Regions from separate parts of the Homo sapiens genome. Here region 2 is linked to region 1. The links come from fine-mapping of genetic effects on gene expression. A gene starts in region 1. The other region holds a variant in brackets. All regions are shown on one strand. Distances are from middle to middle. Region 1 holds the start of COLGALT1 (collagen beta(1-O)galactosyltransferase 1). Region 2 overlaps COLGALT1 (collagen beta(1-O)galactosyltransferase 1).

The links.
Region 2: its variant is fine-mapped to the expression of COLGALT1 in whole blood (TOPMed, PIP above 0.99).

What each region holds. Positions count from the first base shown.
Region 1 is chr19:17,552,238-17,560,561 of GRCh38, forward strand. It overlaps COLGALT1 (collagen beta(1-O)galactosyltransferase 1), which reads left to right and starts at 3,412. Exons shown (of 12, transcript NM_024656.4): 1 at 3,412-3,736; 2 at 7,074-7,184; 3 at 8,111-8,228. The coding sequence starts at 3,477. NIBAN3 (niban apoptosis regulator 3) reads left to right here. Exons shown (of 15, transcript NM_001321827.2): 15 at 1-1,403. RefSeq lists a silencer at 3,490-3,579.
Region 2 is chr19:17,577,387-17,585,710 of GRCh38, forward strand. COLGALT1 (collagen beta(1-O)galactosyltransferase 1) reads left to right here. Exons shown (of 12, transcript NM_024656.4): 8 at 1-81; 9 at 571-703; 10 at 2,096-2,223; 11 at 3,313-3,519; 12 at 3,791-5,771. The coding sequence ends at 4,058. Among named protein-coding and RNA genes, the nearest start is that of COLGALT1, 26 kb to the left of the region's middle. RefSeq lists enhancers at 2,510-2,719, 2,554-2,848. The variant T/C (reference allele first, on the strand shown) is at 4,724.

The sequences.
Region 1 (8,324 bases):
CTGGTTAATTTTTGTGTTTTTAGTAGAGATGGGGTTTCACCATGTTGGCCAGGCTGGTCTCGAACTCCTGTCCTTAAGTGATCTGCCCCCCTCAGCCTCCCAAAGTGCTGGGATTACAGGTGTGAGCCACCACACGTGGCCTAATTTTTTTTTTTTAAATAATAGAGACAAGGTCTCGCTATGCTGCCCAGGCTGATCTCAAACTCCTGGACTCAAGCAATCCTCCTGCCTTGGCCTCCCAAAGTGCTAGGATTATAGGAGTGATCCACTATGTCCAGCCTCCAAATCCTTTCTAAACACTAGGACTTTTCATGAAAAGAAAAAAGCTATGCCAGTTAGACACACACAGAAATCTCATGATTTTATTTTGAATTTCTTTGACTAAATTGAACTTACAAATAAGTTTATTATGGCCAGGCGTGGCAGTGCACACCTGTAATCCCAGCACTTTGGGAGGCTGAGGCGGGCAGATCACTTGAGCTCAGGAGTTCAAGACCAGCCTGGCGAACATAGTGAGACCTCATCTCTACAAAAAATACAAAATTAGCGGCCGGGAGTGGTGGCTCACGCCTGTCATCCCAGCACTTTGGGAGGCTGAGACAGGTGGATTGCTTGAGCCAAGGAGTTTTGAGGCCAGCTTGGGCAATGTGGTGAAACCTGTCTCTACTAAAAAATAAAATAAATAAATAAATAAATAAATAAATAAATAAATAAATAAAATTTAAAAGAAGCTGGGCTGAGATGGGAGATTTACCTGAGCCTGGGAACTCAAGGCTGCAGTGAGTGGTGATTGCACCACTGCACTCCAGCCTGGGTGATGGGAGTGAGACCCTGTCTCAAAAAACAAAATCCAAATATGTTGATTAGCCATTTACATGTTTGTAGTTTTTTTTTTTTTAATTTCAGTGAATTGCCTGTTCATAGCTTTTTTCTACTTTTCAGGAGTGTTTGCATTTTTCTTATTGATATCTAATAACTCTTTATATCTGAAGGATATGAACGCTTTGTGATACAGGTTACAGATTTTGGGGTTTTTTTCTCCGCTTGCTGTGAGCCTTTTGGGTTTGTTTCCTAGCTCCAAATCTTAACTTGGTGTCAAGTTTCCTGGCTGGGAGACAAGCTTTTACCGACTTCCTCTGCTTGCCAGCAAAGTCATCTGCTAACTGGATATTGGCAGCTTCTCTGCTGTCTTGCAGCTGCTTCCGGAGTGGGTTCCACAGGGATTCCCGTGTGTTCTTGGTTCAGCTTGCAGAGGGACTTTCACACTCCCTGGAGACCGTTTCCTCCCATTCTGTCTGGAGTTTTCGGCCTACCCCAAGACAATGAGATATTCCTGACCTTTCCACCTATTTCCCTCCAACCCCACCTTCCGAAATACATTTGCTCAATACATTTGCACTTCATAGGCTTCTTTAGCTGTCTTCCTTTTACCCCGGACGGGATGTAGATGTTAATTCTGGAACAATTGCAGCTACAAGAATTTGTCATCCTGCCCCTTTTGAGAAAAACATTGTTTGCCCTTGGGTCTAAATCCTTCCAGATGGGATGGGATGTATCTTGTCACCTCCTTTTTCTTACTTAATATGAAAAGACCTTTCCTCATCAAGTCCACAGAGTGTAAATTTGTTTTTACCTTTTTTTTTTTTTTTTTGAGACGGTGTCTCACTCTGTCACCCAGGCTGGAATGCAGTGGTGCGATTTTGGCTCACTGCAACCTCCACCTCCTGGGTTCAAGTGATTCTCCTGCCTCGGCCTCCGTAGTAGCTGGGATTACAGGCGAAGCGCCACCATGACCGGCTAATTTTTTGTGTTTTTAGAAGAGATGGGGGCTTCACCATATTGACCAAGCTGGTCTCGAACTCCTGACCTCAAGTGATCCGCCTGCCTCAGCCTCCCAAAATGCTGGGATTACAGGCGTGAGCCACTGCACCTGGCCTGTATCATTCTTAAAAATTAAGTTTTAGCGGGGCATGATGGCTCACTGGTAATCCCAGCAGTTTGGGAGGCTGAAGGGGGAGGATTACTTGAGACCAGGAGTTTGAGAACAGCCGGGGCAACATAGCGAGACTCCATCTCTACAAAAAATTTAAAAATTAGCTGGGCGTGGTTGAGTGCACTTGTAGTCCCAGCTACTTGGGAGGCTGAGGCAGGAGGATCAGTTGAGCCCAGGAGGTTGAGGCTGCAGTGAGCCATGATCATGTGATCATGCCACTGCACTCTAGCCTGAGCCACAGAGTAAGACCCTCTCTGTGAAAATAATAATAAGCTGGGCGCGGTGGCTCACGCCTGTAATCCCAGCACTTTGGGAGGCTGAGGTGGGCGGATCAGGAGGTCAGGAGTTCGAGACCAGCCTGGCCAATATGGTGAAACCCCATCTCTACTATAAACAAAAATTAGCCGGGCGTGGTGGCGCGTGCCTGTAGTCCCAGCTACTCAGGAGGCTGAAGCAGGAGAATCGCTTGAACCCGGGAGGCGGAGGTTGCAGTGAGCCGAGATCGCGCCACTGTACTCTAGCCGGGGCAATGGAGTGAGACGCTGTCTCAAAAAAAAAAAAAAAGAAAATAATAATAATAATAATAATAATGTTCAGATGTATTTTTTAAAGTTTTTATTGTTTTTAAAAATAGAGGCACGGTCTTGCTATGTTGCACCACTGCACTCCAGCCCGGGCAACAAAGCCAGACTCCGTCTCAAAAAAAAAAAAAAAAAAGTGTGATACTAAGTCAATCAATTTGAAAATGCGGCTCTAGAGTATTGGAAAACAATCCCTTGACAGCGTTTCCATGAAAACATGGCCCTTGTCTCTGGAAGAGCTTGTGCCCAGAACGGTCCATTATCATGCCCTGGCTCTATTTTCACGCCAACCCTATAGGGTCTCTATGATCTCATTTTATAGATGGACAGACTGAGGCTCACATATAGCAAGCCCAAGGCGGGGACTGAATGTGACGCCAGGTCTGTGGACGTCATGACCTTTATTCTCCACAACCCTCAATGACATCCCTGTGAGATCCAAAACCAGGATGGCAAAACCCACGTTGCAGCAGAGGAAACTGAGGCTAAGGTCTCTTGGGTCCCAAACCAGGTCCTAAGTAGCCAAGTCCGCCTGGTGGCACAGCCCGGGTTTTATACATGGGGAAATTGGGCGGCGCATCTGGCGGAGGTCTCAGTGGTAGGAGGCGCCTGGAGGAAGCGCGGGTTCCTAACCCTAACGCTACCCCTAACATCCCTTCCACGCGCTCCGAGCGCTATGTGCCTTTAAGATCGGTGCGGGGGCGGGGCGTCCTGGGTAGGGCTGCAGGTGACGTCACTCCGGGCCTTGGGACTCGGAGAGCGTCTGGAGGCGGGGCCTGGACTTCACGCCCGGCGCGCTCCTCCCCTTTAAGGCGCGCGGCCGGGCGGGGCCCCTATGACCCCTTTAAGGCGCGGCCAGAGTCCTCCCGCAGAAAAACGACTTAAAGGAGACGCGTGGCGCGATGGCGGCGGCCCCACGCGCGGGCCGGCGGCGCGGGCAGCCGCTCCTGGCGCTGCTGCTTCTGCTGCTGGCGCCACTGCCGCCGGGGGCCCCGCCGGGCGCCGACGCCTACTTCCCCGAGGAGCGCTGGAGCCCGGAGTCGCCCCTGCAGGCGCCGCGCGTGCTCATCGCGCTGTTGGCGCGAAACGCGGCCCACGCGTTGCCCACCACGCTGGGCGCACTCGAGCGGCTGCGGCACCCGCGGGAGCGCACGGCGCTATGGTGAGTCGAGCCCGCTGTCCCCATCAGGCGGGTCACGCGAGCCCCTGCTTGCTGTCCCCATAGGGGTGGGTCCACGCGAGCCCCTGCCCGCTGTCCTCTTCTGGGCGGGTCCGCGCGTGCTTCCTGCTCGCTACCCCCATCGGGACGGTTCTACGCATGCCCCTGCCCGCTGCCCCCATCGGGACGGGTCCACGCGTGCCCCCTGCCTGCTGTCCTCCCATGGGGCCAGACACAGCCCTCCCCACAACACAAGCGGGACCGAGTTCCTCCTGCTGGCTCCTTTGGGGTGGGCTGGGCACCGCTTCTGCCTGCTGGACCCTACTAGGGCAGCTCCGGCCTCACTAACTGGGGCTCTAACTCCCTCTGGGGCACGTACACCTCCAAAGGACGGAGCCCAGAGCCCCCACTGGGGCGTTGCCAGAGGCCACATCTAACAGCAAGCCTTTCTGTGCCGGCTGCTGCCCTTAAGCTTGAACTCAGCCTGGCTCCAGGCCCCAGTCAAACCCCTGCCCTCAGACCGGCGTGGGTGGAGTCCAGGACCAGATGGCCCAGGAGGAAGTGGATGCTTTCTTGGTAGGGAATGGGGCAGAGCTCTGAAGAAACCTTTGACTGGTGACTTCTCACTCCCTGCCTCAGTTTTCTCAAATGGAAAATGGGTCCGGGTGCAGTGGCTCACGCAGTAATCCTAGCAATTTGGGAGGCCAAGGTAAGCGGGTCACTTGAGCTCAGGAGTTCGACACCAGCCTTGCCAACATGGCAAAACCCCGTCTCTAGAAAAAAAATACAAAAATTAGCCAGGTGCGGTGGTGTGTGCCTGTAGTCCCAGCTATTCAGGAGGCTGACGCAGGAGAATCGCTTGAGCCCAGGAGTTCGAGGCTGCAGTGACCTATGATTGCACCACTGCACTCCAGCCTGGGCTACAGAGTAAGACCTGCCTCTAAAAAAAGAAAAAGAAAAGAAAATGAGCGTATTAATATAATTCTCTTTTTGGGTTTGTCTCTGAAGATTATCCAGTTAATGGATGTGGAGCCCTTGGGTCTGGCATGGGCTTGGCTCTCAGTGATTTTATTATCATGATTACTGTCATTGCTGGTGTTATTGTCAACTTAATTTATTGGGCAGAATTAGCTTTTGGCACTACGGTCAAACTAAACTCCCAAATGTCGCTTTTCCTTCCACCTGATTTCTCAGTCTGGATAATCCAAATACACAATTGGTACTTAACAAATGTTTGTTGAATGAATAATTGACTGCAGCCCACTGAAGTGGTGTGGCTCACAGGAGAAGATGAAGGCAGGGTAAGGGATTTATGAGATATACTTTGAGATATACTTTTTTTTTTCTCTCAGACGGAATCTTGCTCTGTCGCCCAGGCTGGAGTACAGTGACACGATCTCAGCTCATTGCAACCTCCGCCTCCGGGTTCAAGTGATTCTCCTGCCTCAGCCTCCCGAGTAGCTTGGGATTACAGGTGCGCACCACCATGCCTGGCTAATTTTTGTATTTTTAATAGAGTCAGGGTTTCACCATTGTGGCCAGGCTTGTGTTGATCTCCTGACCTCATGATCTGCCTGCCTCGGCCTCCCTAAGTGCTGGGATTACAGGCATGAGCCACAGCGCCCTGCTGAGATATACTTTTTTTTTTGATACAGGGTTTTACATCTGTCGCCCAGGCGGGAGTGCAGTGGTGCAATCCTAGCTCACTGCAACTTCCCCCTCCTGGGCTCAAGTGATTCTCCTGCCTCAGCTTCTTGAGTAACTGGGACTACAGGCGTATGCCACTGCGCCCAGCTAATTTTTGTATTTTTTCTAGAGATGGGGTTTTGCCCTATTGGCCAGGCTGGTCTCGAACTCCCGAGCTCAAGTGACCTGCCCACCTCGGCCTCCCAACATATTGGGATTACAGGCGTGAGCCATTGCACCCAGCTGGTTTCTGATATATACATTTCATTTTTTAATATTTTTTATTTATTTATTTTTTGAGACTGAGTCTCGCTCTCGTTGCTGAGGCTGGAGTGCAGTGGCACGATCTCGGCTCACTGCAACCTCCTCCTCCCAGGTTCAAGCGATTCTCCTGCCTCGGCCTCCTGAGTAGCTGGGATTACAGGTGCCCGCCACCACACCCAGCTAATTTTTTGTGTTTTTAGTAGAGATGGGATTTCACCATGTTGGCCAGGCTAGGCTCAAACTCCTGGCCTCAAGTGATTCACCCGCCTCGGCCTCCCAAAGTGCTGGAATTACAAGCGTGAGCCACCATGCCCGGCCTAATTTTTGTATTTTTAGTAGAGATGGGGTTTCGCCATGTTGGCCAGGCTGGTCTCAAACTCCTGACCTCAGGTGATACACCCGCCTCGGCCTCTCAAAGTGCTGGGATGACAGGCGTGAGCCACCGTGCCTGGCCTGATCTATACATTACAAAAATTGCCGTGTGCGGTGGCTCATTCCTGTCATCCCAGCACTTTGGGAGGCTGAGGCAGGTGGATCACCTGAGGTCAGGAGTTCGAGAGCAGCCTGGCCAACATGGCGAAACCCCATCTCTACTAAAAATGCAAAAATTAGCTGGGCATGGTGGTGGGCACCTGTAATCCCAGCTACTCGGGAGGCTGAGGCAGGAGAATTGCTTGGACCTGGTAGGCGGAGATTGCAGTGAACCAAGATTGTGCCACTGCACTCTAGCCTGGGTGACAGAGCAAGACTCTGTCTCAAAAGAAAAAAAAAATTAAGTGACACATATTTGTTAGTGAATGTGGTTTGCAAGATCTTAGATGCTCAGTAATAAAACAGCCAATCACTAATGGGTCTTTCCAAAATCAGCTTGTTTAATCCTTCCACTTCCCAGTAAACTGGGTCCTGTTCCCACCCCCATGTTACAGATGAGGAAACTGACATGGAAAGGGAGAAATGGGCCGGGCGCGGTGGCTCACGCTTGTTAAGTCCAGCACTTTGGGAGGCCAAGGTGGGCGGATCACGAGGTCAGGAGATCGAGACCAGCCTGGCCAACATGGTGAAACCCCGTCTCTACTAAAAATACAAAAAAATTAGCCGGGTGTGGTGGCGGGCGCCTGTAGTCCCAGCTACTTGGGAGGCTGAGACAGGAGAAGGCGTGAACCCGGGAGGCGGAGCTTGCAGTGAGCCGAGATCGCGCCACTGCACTCCAGCCTGGGCAACAGAGCGAGACTCTGTCTCAAAAAAAAACAAAGGAAAGGGAGAAGTGTCCTGTCCAGGGATACATAGCTGGTGGGAGGCCAGTTGGGGATGGTGGTCCTTGACTTGCCTCACTGCTGCCTGGTCCTGCCTCAGTCTCCCCAAGTACGCTGCCTGTCCCCTCTCCCTGCAGGGTGGCTACGGACCACAACATGGATAACACGTCAACTGTGCTGCGGGAGTGGCTGGTGGCCGTGAAGAGTTTGTACCATTCCGTGGAGTGGCGGCCAGCAGAGGAGCCCAGGTGAGCATCTTTCCCCTGCTCCTAGTCTGATTGGGCTTTGCCTCTGCTCACACACCCTCTATGGCTCCCCATTGCCCCAGAACAATTACAGGCCCTCAGTCCCTGCCTCCAGCCCAGCCAGGCAGCATTAAGCTACTCTGAGCCTCCCTCAGCTTTACAAATAGGCCATAATCCTCTTCTCAGACCTTTGCCCAAGCCGTTCCCTGTACCTAGAATTCTTTCACTCCCTTTTTCTTCTGGGGACGCCCACTGCTTTGTTCCCTGGCTCACTGACTCAGTCTTGGTCCCAGCACTGGCTTTGCTGTTTATCTACTCCCTAAAGCCCTGGGCAGCATGGACTCCCTGCCCCCACCCAGTTCCTTTCTGGGTTTTTGTTTTTTTTTTGAGACAGGGTCTCACTCCCTCACCCAGGCTGGAGTGCAGTGGAGTGAACACAGCTTACTGCAGCCTTTAACTCCTGGGCTCAAGCCATCCTCCCGCCTCAGCCTCCTGAGTAGCTGGGACTACAGGCACATGTAACCATGCCTAGCTAATGTTTTTGTATTTTTTGTAGAGATAGGGTCTCACTGTGTTGCCCAGGCTGGTCTCAAAGTGCTGGCCTCAAGCGATCCTCCCACCTCTGCCTCCCAAAGTGCTGGGATCGCAGGCGTGGGCCACTGCACTGGACCCCACTGAGCTTCCTTCCTTCCTTCCCTCCAGTGTGCCTCGGGCTTTCTTCCCTCCAGGCCTTTGCACAGGCTGTACCTCCGGCCAGGAACATTCTCCCCACTTCTCTTTCCTCGTCGTTTACTTTTTCCCATCCCTCAGATCAGCTTACACGTCCCCTCCTCCAGGAAGCTCTCTCTGAGTACCCCGAAGGCAGCTCAGGCCCTCGCTGGGCTTTGATAGTGCCTTGTGATGTCCACATCACAGCTGCCTCCCCATAGGTCCTACCCGGACGAGGAAGGCCCGAAACACTGGTCTGACTCACGCTACGAGCATGTCATGAAGTTGCGCCAGGCAGCCCTGAAATCAGCTCGAGACATGTGGGCTGATTACATCCTGGTAAGTTTCTCAGCCGGCCGGATATGGATCACAGGCAGGTCTGGGTATCCCCAGGGAAGGCGGAGCAGCAGGATGCCAGGACCATCCTTAATGTTG
Region 2 (8,324 bases), 25 kb after region 1:
GCAGGACCGGCGGGAGCGCATGCTGCGGGCGCTGCAGGCACAGGAGATCGAGTGCCGGCTGGTGGAGGCCGTGGACGGCAAGTGAGTCCGAGGCCTGGGGGTGGGGGGGCGGGTCCGCACGTGGATGTGGGTGTAGACCTCGCTGGTAGACGGCAAGTGATTCAGATGGGGGCGGGCGTGGTGTCCAAACAGATGTAGACCTCGTCAGTGGGCGTCCTGAAGGGGAAGTGAATGGGACCCTGGGGAAGGGGCAGATCCTCACAGTTGTAGACCATGGAAGGCAAGTGAGTCCTGACCCAGGGGAATGGGTAGGTTTGCATGCTGCCAGTGTAGACTGGTGGGGACTGTGGAGGGGTAAGTCAGTCAGACCCCAGGAGAGGAGGAGAGCAGGTTTGCCCGCGAGTGTATACCATGTGCAGGTGAGTGAGGCCCCATGTGCCCGGAAGGGGTGCCAGTGCTACAAGAGGTGGACCAGCTGCTCAACGCCGCAGGGGGTGGTGGAATGGCCGGGGATGGCAGAATGGCAGGCAGGGTGAACCTTCTTCGTGACCCTCTCCTCCTCCTCTCCAGAGCCATGAACACCAGCCAGGTGGAGGCGCTGGGGATCCAGATGCTGCCTGGCTACCGGGACCCCTACCACGGCCGGCCCCTCACCAAGGGTGAGCTGGGCTGCTTCCTGAGCCACTACAACATCTGGAAGGAGGTGTGTCCTGAGTGATGGGCGGGGCCAGAGTTATGACTCTAGATCTCATCGGAGATTTGGACGGGAAAGGGGTTGAAAGAGTTCCCCAAAGCCCCGGCTAGGCATCCAGCCTCAGCCATGGGACCCATGGCCTCTCTTTAGTGAATGATGCGCCACACCAGCTGTATCACCCCCAGGTGTACCTGCCATCCTTCCATTGCGCAAATGTGGAAACTGAGCCTGGGGGTAGGGGTGAGCCCTTTTGAGCAGCAGGTGGTGTCTGGGGCCTGGGACCTGTAAACAAATCCTCATTACTCCCAGCCTGGTCTCTGTGCTTGATGTTTAGTACTAGAAGTCATGGCCACAGAGCCACTTTAAACCAGCACCTGCCCAGTGCTGCTGGGGGCACTCACCAGCCCAGGCATCCTCATCCACCCTCAGAGGGAGAGGCTGTGATTGGAGGAGGGTGTCTGACTAGGCTTCGAACTTGGGCCATCAGGGCCGGGCATGGTGGCGCACACCTGTGGTCCCAACTATTTGGGAGGCTAAAGTGGGAGAGTGGCTTGAGCCCAGGAGTTAAGGCTGCAGTCAGCCAAGATCGTGCCACTGCACTGCAGACTGGACAGCAGAGCAAAACCGTGTCTCAGAAAAAAGAAAAATGGCTGGGCGTGGTGGCTCATGCCTGTAATCTCAGCACTTTGGGAGGCCGAGGCAGGCGGATCACCTTAGGTCAGGAGTTCAAGACCAGCCTGGCCAACATGGTGAAACCTAGACTCTACTAAAAATACAAAAATTATCTGGGTGTGGTGGTGGGCACCTGTAATCCCTCTACTTGGGAGACTGAGGCAGGAGAATCACTTGAACCCAGGAGGCAGAGGTTGCAGTGGGCTGAAATCATGCCATTGCACTCCAGCCTGGGCGACAAGAGTGACACTCCATCTCAAAAAAAGAAAAATAAAATCCGGGCGTAGTGGCACATGCCTGTAATCCCAGCTGCTCAGGAGGCTGAGGCAGAATTACTTGAACCTGGGAGGCGGAGGTTGCAGTTGAGATCGTTCCACTGCACTCCAGCCTGGGCGACAGGGCGAGACTCCGTCTCAAAAAAAAAAAAAAAGAAAAAGAAAAGAAAAACTTGTTATCGAATGTGAAGCCAAATGGGGGTGTGCGGCTGCAAGGCGGGAGGTGCATGAGGCGTGGGCATTTGAGGGGCTGGGAGGCCTTTCTCTTCTGAGATCCATTATGGACGGCAGAGGGCAGAGGTTTGGATGTCCAGATGTCCCTGGAGCTAGGAGAGGCAGGGAGATGCACTGGCTTCTCTACGGGTCTTTCAAACCTTCTCAAAGCAAAGCTCTGTGCTTTAGGGTCAGGCCTGGCCTTGGCCTCCCTGTGATGTGGCGGGGCTTCCTCCCTCAGGTGGTGGACCGGGGGCTGCAGAAATCGCTTGTGTTTGAGGATGACCTGCGTTTTGAGATCTTCTTCAAGAGACGTCTGATGAACCTCATGCGGGATGTGGAGCGGGAGGGCCTGGACTGGGACCTCATGTGAGTGGGGGTCTGAGGATGGGGTGAAGCTGGGGCCTGGGGCAAGGCCAGGACTTAGAGGTGGGGGTGGGGGCAGGGTGGAGCTGGGACCTGGGGATGGGTCATGGCTTAGAGGCGGGGCTTGAAGGTGGGGTGGAACTGGAGCCTAGGTACATGGCCAGGGCTTAGAGGTGGGGCTGGGAGGCGGAGTGGAGCTGAATCCTACGGGCGTGGCCACAGCGCTGCAGCTGAGCCTAGAGCCTGTATGTCTGGGTGTGGTCAGGGTGGCAGGCGTGGCCAACCCTTGGAAGCGTAGCAGGAGGGCTCACGTGGTTCCTGGGCCTGAAGGCACTGTCAGGGCTGTAGCCTATAGGGAAGGGCGTTGGAAGGATCACCCAGAACTCAAGGGACCTGGCCGGAAGCCTGCAGGCTTGGTCAAGGCTTAGAGACTTGACTGAGGCCTGTGGAGGTGGATGTGGCTAAAATTTGACCGGGCAGCCTGTGGGCGTGGCTGAAGAGCATGGGGGTGTGGTCAGAGCTGGAGGTGTGGCCGAAGAGTGTGGGGGCGTGGCCAGGGCGCCTGGTCTTAGACAAGCCCCTGGATGGGAGTGCCACCAACATGTTTCCAGCACTGGAGCCGTCCTTCTCTTCTGTAAGTGGGCTGGTTTGTCCTCTCCCTTCCTCCATCTCTTTTTTCCCTTCCATGTGCAGTGCCCTAATCTGCATTCTGGGAACACTGCCCCATGTGAATAGTAACTGCACCCCTCCATTCCTGACTGCCCCCCCATCAGGGCACCTCGCCCACCTCCACCCCCACTGTCCTCTGAACTCAGAGCAGCTTCAGCCTCAGAGAACGTCTGCGTGATCCTGCTCTCCCCAGCTCCAGATCCTCCATGGCTCCCTCACGCCCTTTGGAAAAACTCACTCTTCTCCCCCATGACCGCCAGACCCCTGGGCTCCTGCATTCACTCCATCCAGTCACAGAGCTCTGCAAACATGCTGAGCCTGCTCCCATCCCAGGACCTGACGGGGTAACTAGATCCCTGGCTTTCTGGGCAAGCTCCCTCCGGAGGGCGGGAGGAGAGTGACAGGCCCGATCTTGCACCCCAGCTATGTGGGCCGGAAGCGGATGCAGGTGGAGCACCCCGAGAAGGCTGTGCCTCGCGTGAGGAACCTGGTGGAGGCCGACTATTCCTACTGGACCCTGGCCTACGTGATCTCCCTGCAAGGCGCCCGCAAACTGCTGGCTGCTGAGCCGCTCTCCAAGATGCTGCCTGTGGACGAGTTCCTGCCCGTCATGTTCGACAAACACCCAGTGTGAGAGGGGCAGGCGGCTGCTGGGCTGGGGTTTCACGGTGGGTCTGTCCTGGGAGAATGGGGATGTGAGACTCACGGCCTCCGAGAAGATGTCTCTTCTTTTGCCTACTTCTCCCTCCGTTTGCCCCCTCGCAGATCTGTCTCCATTTGTATCCCCTGCACACTTACGTTTTAATCTGTCCCCGCTGACTTCTTCACCCCCAATTTTTCCTCCAGCTGTCCCGTCCCCTGAAGCCATTGCTGCCCCTCACTCCCCTCCTCCTCCCCCCAGGTCCGAGTACAAGGCCCACTTCTCCCTCCGCAACCTGCATGCCTTCTCTGTGGAGCCGCTGCTCATCTACCCCACACACTACACAGGAGACGATGGCTATGTGAGTGACACCGAGACCTCAGTCGTATGGAACAATGAGCACGTCAAGACCGACTGGGACCGCGCCAAGTCCCAGAAGATGCGGGAGCAGCAGGCACTGAGCCGTGAGGCCAAGAACTCGGACGTGCTCCAGTCCCCACTGGACAGTGCTGCCCGGGATGAACTCTGAGGGGTAGCAGCCAGAAAGCCAAAGCAGCCATCGGTGGCCCAGGCTCCACGTGCTTACTGAGGACATCAGGTCCACCTCTGGACCCCTTGGCAGGCCACAGAGGGCTCTCGTGTGGGGTGGTGTCCAGCCAGCTCTTGCTAAGCAATCACGTGCACACAGGCAGCATTAATGGAGTGCCTACTGCATGCCAGCAACAGGGCTTGGCCCTGGGGAATTGGGAGGAACCAAGCCCTCTTCATCTGTTCATGTGCCCAGCATTTATTAAGCACCTGCTGTATGCAAGGTTCCCATGTTACGGCAGTGAATGAGGCATAATTGTTCCCTCCATCAGCGATTGATTCAGTCATCAAGCAGTTACTGATCAGATTAAGAATCAGGCACTAGTGATACACATTCATTTTTAAAATTCATTCAAGGATTTATTGAGTGCCTACTGTGTGTTGGGTGCCATTCCAGGCTCTGGGATTTTTTTTTTTTTTTTTTTAAGAGTAGAGTCTGTCTCTGTCACCCAGGCTGGAGTGCAGTGGTGTGACGGCTCACTGCAGCCTGCGCCTCCCAGCGTCCAGCAATTCTTGTTTCTCGGCCTCCCAAGTAGCTGGGACTATAGGTGCGTGCCATCACATCTGGCTAGTTTTTGTATTTTTAGTAGAGACGGGGTTTCACCA[T/C]GTTGGCCAGGCTGGTCTCGAACTCCTGACCTCAAGTGATCTGCCCGCCTTGGCCACCCAAAGTGCTAGGGTTACAGGCATGAGCCACTGTGCCCAGCCCAGGCTCTGGGAATATTGAGATAAATAAGATGCTTCTATCCATTTATTCAAGCACATATTGGTCACCTACTGTGTGCCTGGCACTCATGTCACAAAGATAAGTTCCTGATTCGGTACACTTACTGAGCACCTGCTGTGTGCAGGGAGCTGAGCTATGGGATGGGAATGGGAGTAAACAAGGTACTTTTTACTTTTTTCTTTTTTTCCTCACTGCTAGACGGTGTGGGAACTTCTCACTCATTGGCTTCTTTCCCACACACCTGAAGAGCACTGACTGTGTGCCGGGCACTAGTGATACAAAAGAGTGTGACAGTTGTTCAGTCTGCATTTTCGATCATGGGCTACATGCCGAGTGCTGGGGCACAGAGATGAACAAGATCGGTTCCTTCACTTCTTCATGCCACAAGTGTTTATTGAGCACCTGTGTGCCAGGCCTCACAGACTCCCAGTTGGGTTGAAGAATGGTTGACTGAGTTTGATTCTTCCTGTACCCTCGGTCGTCTGAGCTGTGTGCAGACAACATCCCCCCACCACCCAAGAGGGAGGGTAGCTCTTCCGCCACCAGGGGCAAGCACAGGTCCTGGTGGCCCCACGCCACATGTTAGCCCCCCTGGAGGGGGCGCCAGTTGGAGACGGGGGCTGGGTGTCCCTGGCCCACTCCCGGTCCCCTGTGCTTTACCTCCTTGCCCTTGTGTCTCAGGTGTGGTCCCTGCCTGCTTGATGAAGTTGCTCTGTTCAAGCCTTTGGTGGGATCATGTGTTTGGGGGCTTTTAGGGGACCCAGCTGCACTGGGGCACTGCCCGTGGCCTGGGTAGGACATTTCCCAGCAAGGGCTGGAGGAGTTGCCGTGCCTTCAGCCTGAATCGAATGTCAGAACCAGCCAGCGGTGCTTCACCCTCTTGGGGATAACTTGCTTAGTTTTTTAATAAATGTTCCTGGTTGGTTTTCACAGCAGTTTGTGGGATTTTGCTCGGCACCAAAACACTGCCCACGTTCCCCACCCCTGGATGGCCGACAAGATTTGGGAGGAAACCAGGGCAGGTGCAGTAGGGAAGCTGCCCAGTGGGGCCTGGCATGGTGGCTCATGCCTGTAATCCCGGTGCTTTGGGAGGCTAAGGTGGGCGGATCACTTGAGGTCAGGAATTCAAGACCAGCCTGGCCAACATGGTGAAACCCCCTCTCTATTAAAAGTACAAAAATTAGCCTAGTGTAGTGGGGCGGGGTGGCGGGGGGGGGGTACCTGTAATCCTCGCTACTTGGGAGGCTGAGGCAGGAGAATCGCTTGAACCTGGGAGGTGGAGGTTGCAGTGACCCAAGATTGAGCCACTGCCCTCCAGCCTGGGCGGCAGAGCAAGACACAATCAAACCAAAAAAAAAAAAAAAAAGCTGGCCAGTGGAGCTACTGTGGGGTGAGGGTGTGGTAAGAGCCCTGTGTCCCCTCATGCCATAAAACTTCCCCCAAACAGGCGGGGGACCGACAGCTCTGTCTTGAGTCAACTTCAGGATCCTTCCACATGACTTCGAATAAAGAGGGGCTGTCGTGCTTTGAGTCCCCCTAAAACAGACCTCAACATGAGGATTAGGGCTGGGCATGGTGGTTCACGCCTGTAATCCCAGCACTTTGGGAGGCCAAGGTGGGTGGATCACCTGAGGTCAGGAGTTCGAGACCAGCCTGATCAATAAGATGAAATCCCGTCTCTACTAAAAATGCAAAAAGCAGCCAGGCATGGTGGTGTGTGACAGTAGTCCCAGCTACTTGGGAGGCTGAGGCAGGAGAATCGCTTGAACGCAGGAGGTGGAGGTTGCAGTGAGCTGAAATCTTGCCACTGCACTCCAGCCTGGGCAACAGAATGAGACTCCATCTCAAAAAAAAAAAAGGATTAGGCTGGGTGAGGTGGCTCACTCCTATAATCCCAATGCTTTGGGAGGTTGAGGAGGTGAGAGGATTGCTTGAGGTCAGGAGCTCAAGACCAGCTTGGGCAACAGAGTGAGACCCTCGTCTCTACAAAAAAAATTGAGAAATTAGTTGGGCATGGTAGGGCACACCTGTAATCTGGCTACTCAGGAGGCTGAAGCAGGAGTATCTCTTGAGTCTAGGAGGTTGAGGCTGCAGTGAACCATGATCACACCACTGCACTCCAGCCTGGGCAACAGAGCAAGACCCTGTTTCTATAAAACAAAACCAGAAAACTTCCCTGAAATAGCCCAGGGACAGGTGGCCAACTTCATTCTATCTTGGATCAACCACAGGATCGTCGCAGATGACTTCAAATGAGGAGGGGCTGTCATGGTTTGGGTCCCCTGAAACAGACTCCAAGATGAGGATTGAAGGGCACTTACGTTATCAGTGACCCCAGGAACTTGCTGTGGAGCAGTAGGGAAGTGAGACAAGAAGGGAAAGAGTGGTCCCACCCCAGGGAGAGGGGGCTGGACATTACAACATGCCCAGTTGCATTTGGATTTTCTGGGTCAAATGCTTACAAATCCTCTGGATTATTACACCTTTAGGGTGTGCAAGAATATACCCGAGACTTTTATAAACTAACACAGGGGCCAGGCGCGGTGGCTCACACCTGTAATCCCAGCACTTTGGGAGGCCGAGGCTGGTGGATCATGAGGTCAGGAGTTCGAGACCAGCCTGGCCAATATGGTGAAACCCCGTCTCTACTAAAAATACAGAAAAATTAGCTGGGCATGGTGGTGAGCGCCTGTAGTCCCAGCTACTTGGAGGCTGAGGCAGAAGAATCACTTGAACCTGGGAGGCGGAGGTTGTAGTGAGCCGAGATCACGCCACTGCACTCCAGCCTGGGCGACAGAGCAACACTCTTGTCTCAAAAAACAAAAAACAAACAACAACAAAAAACCCTAACACTGATGGTGTTCAATCAGTGTGGAAAAAATCAGAACTTACAGCTAAGCAAATTGACAAAGCAAAAATTAAATCACACCTTTTCAGACACAACTAACATTTTCAAAAACTTTCCAGCCTTCCTTATTTGCATGGTGTAAATATATATGCATTTTTTAAAAAAGGAGGACCATGTTACCTAAGCTACTGCAACTTGCCGTTTTATTTTTCGTGGAATGCACTTTTATTTTCTAAGCATGGGATCAAACTGTACCTATTTTTTAAAAAACAACTTTTATTTTTAAATTTAACAACTATTGTGGACCTCCTTTCCAAAATAGGGTTAACATCTACGAGCTCTTTTTGGATTGTTATGGAAAATATTCCCTGCTGTTTCCTGCAGTGGATAGCATTATACAATACATCTTTCCTACTGGATTTTTTGTTTTTTTGTGTTTTTTTGTTTGTTTTGTTTTGCTTTTTGAGACGGAGTCACACTCTGTCACCCAGGCTGGAGAGCAGTGATACGATCTTGACTCACTGCAACCTCCGCCTCCTGGGTTCAAGCAATTCTCCTGCCTCAGCCTCCTGAGTAATAGATTACAGGCGCCCGCACCACACCTGGAGAATTTTTGTATTTTTAGTAGAGATGGG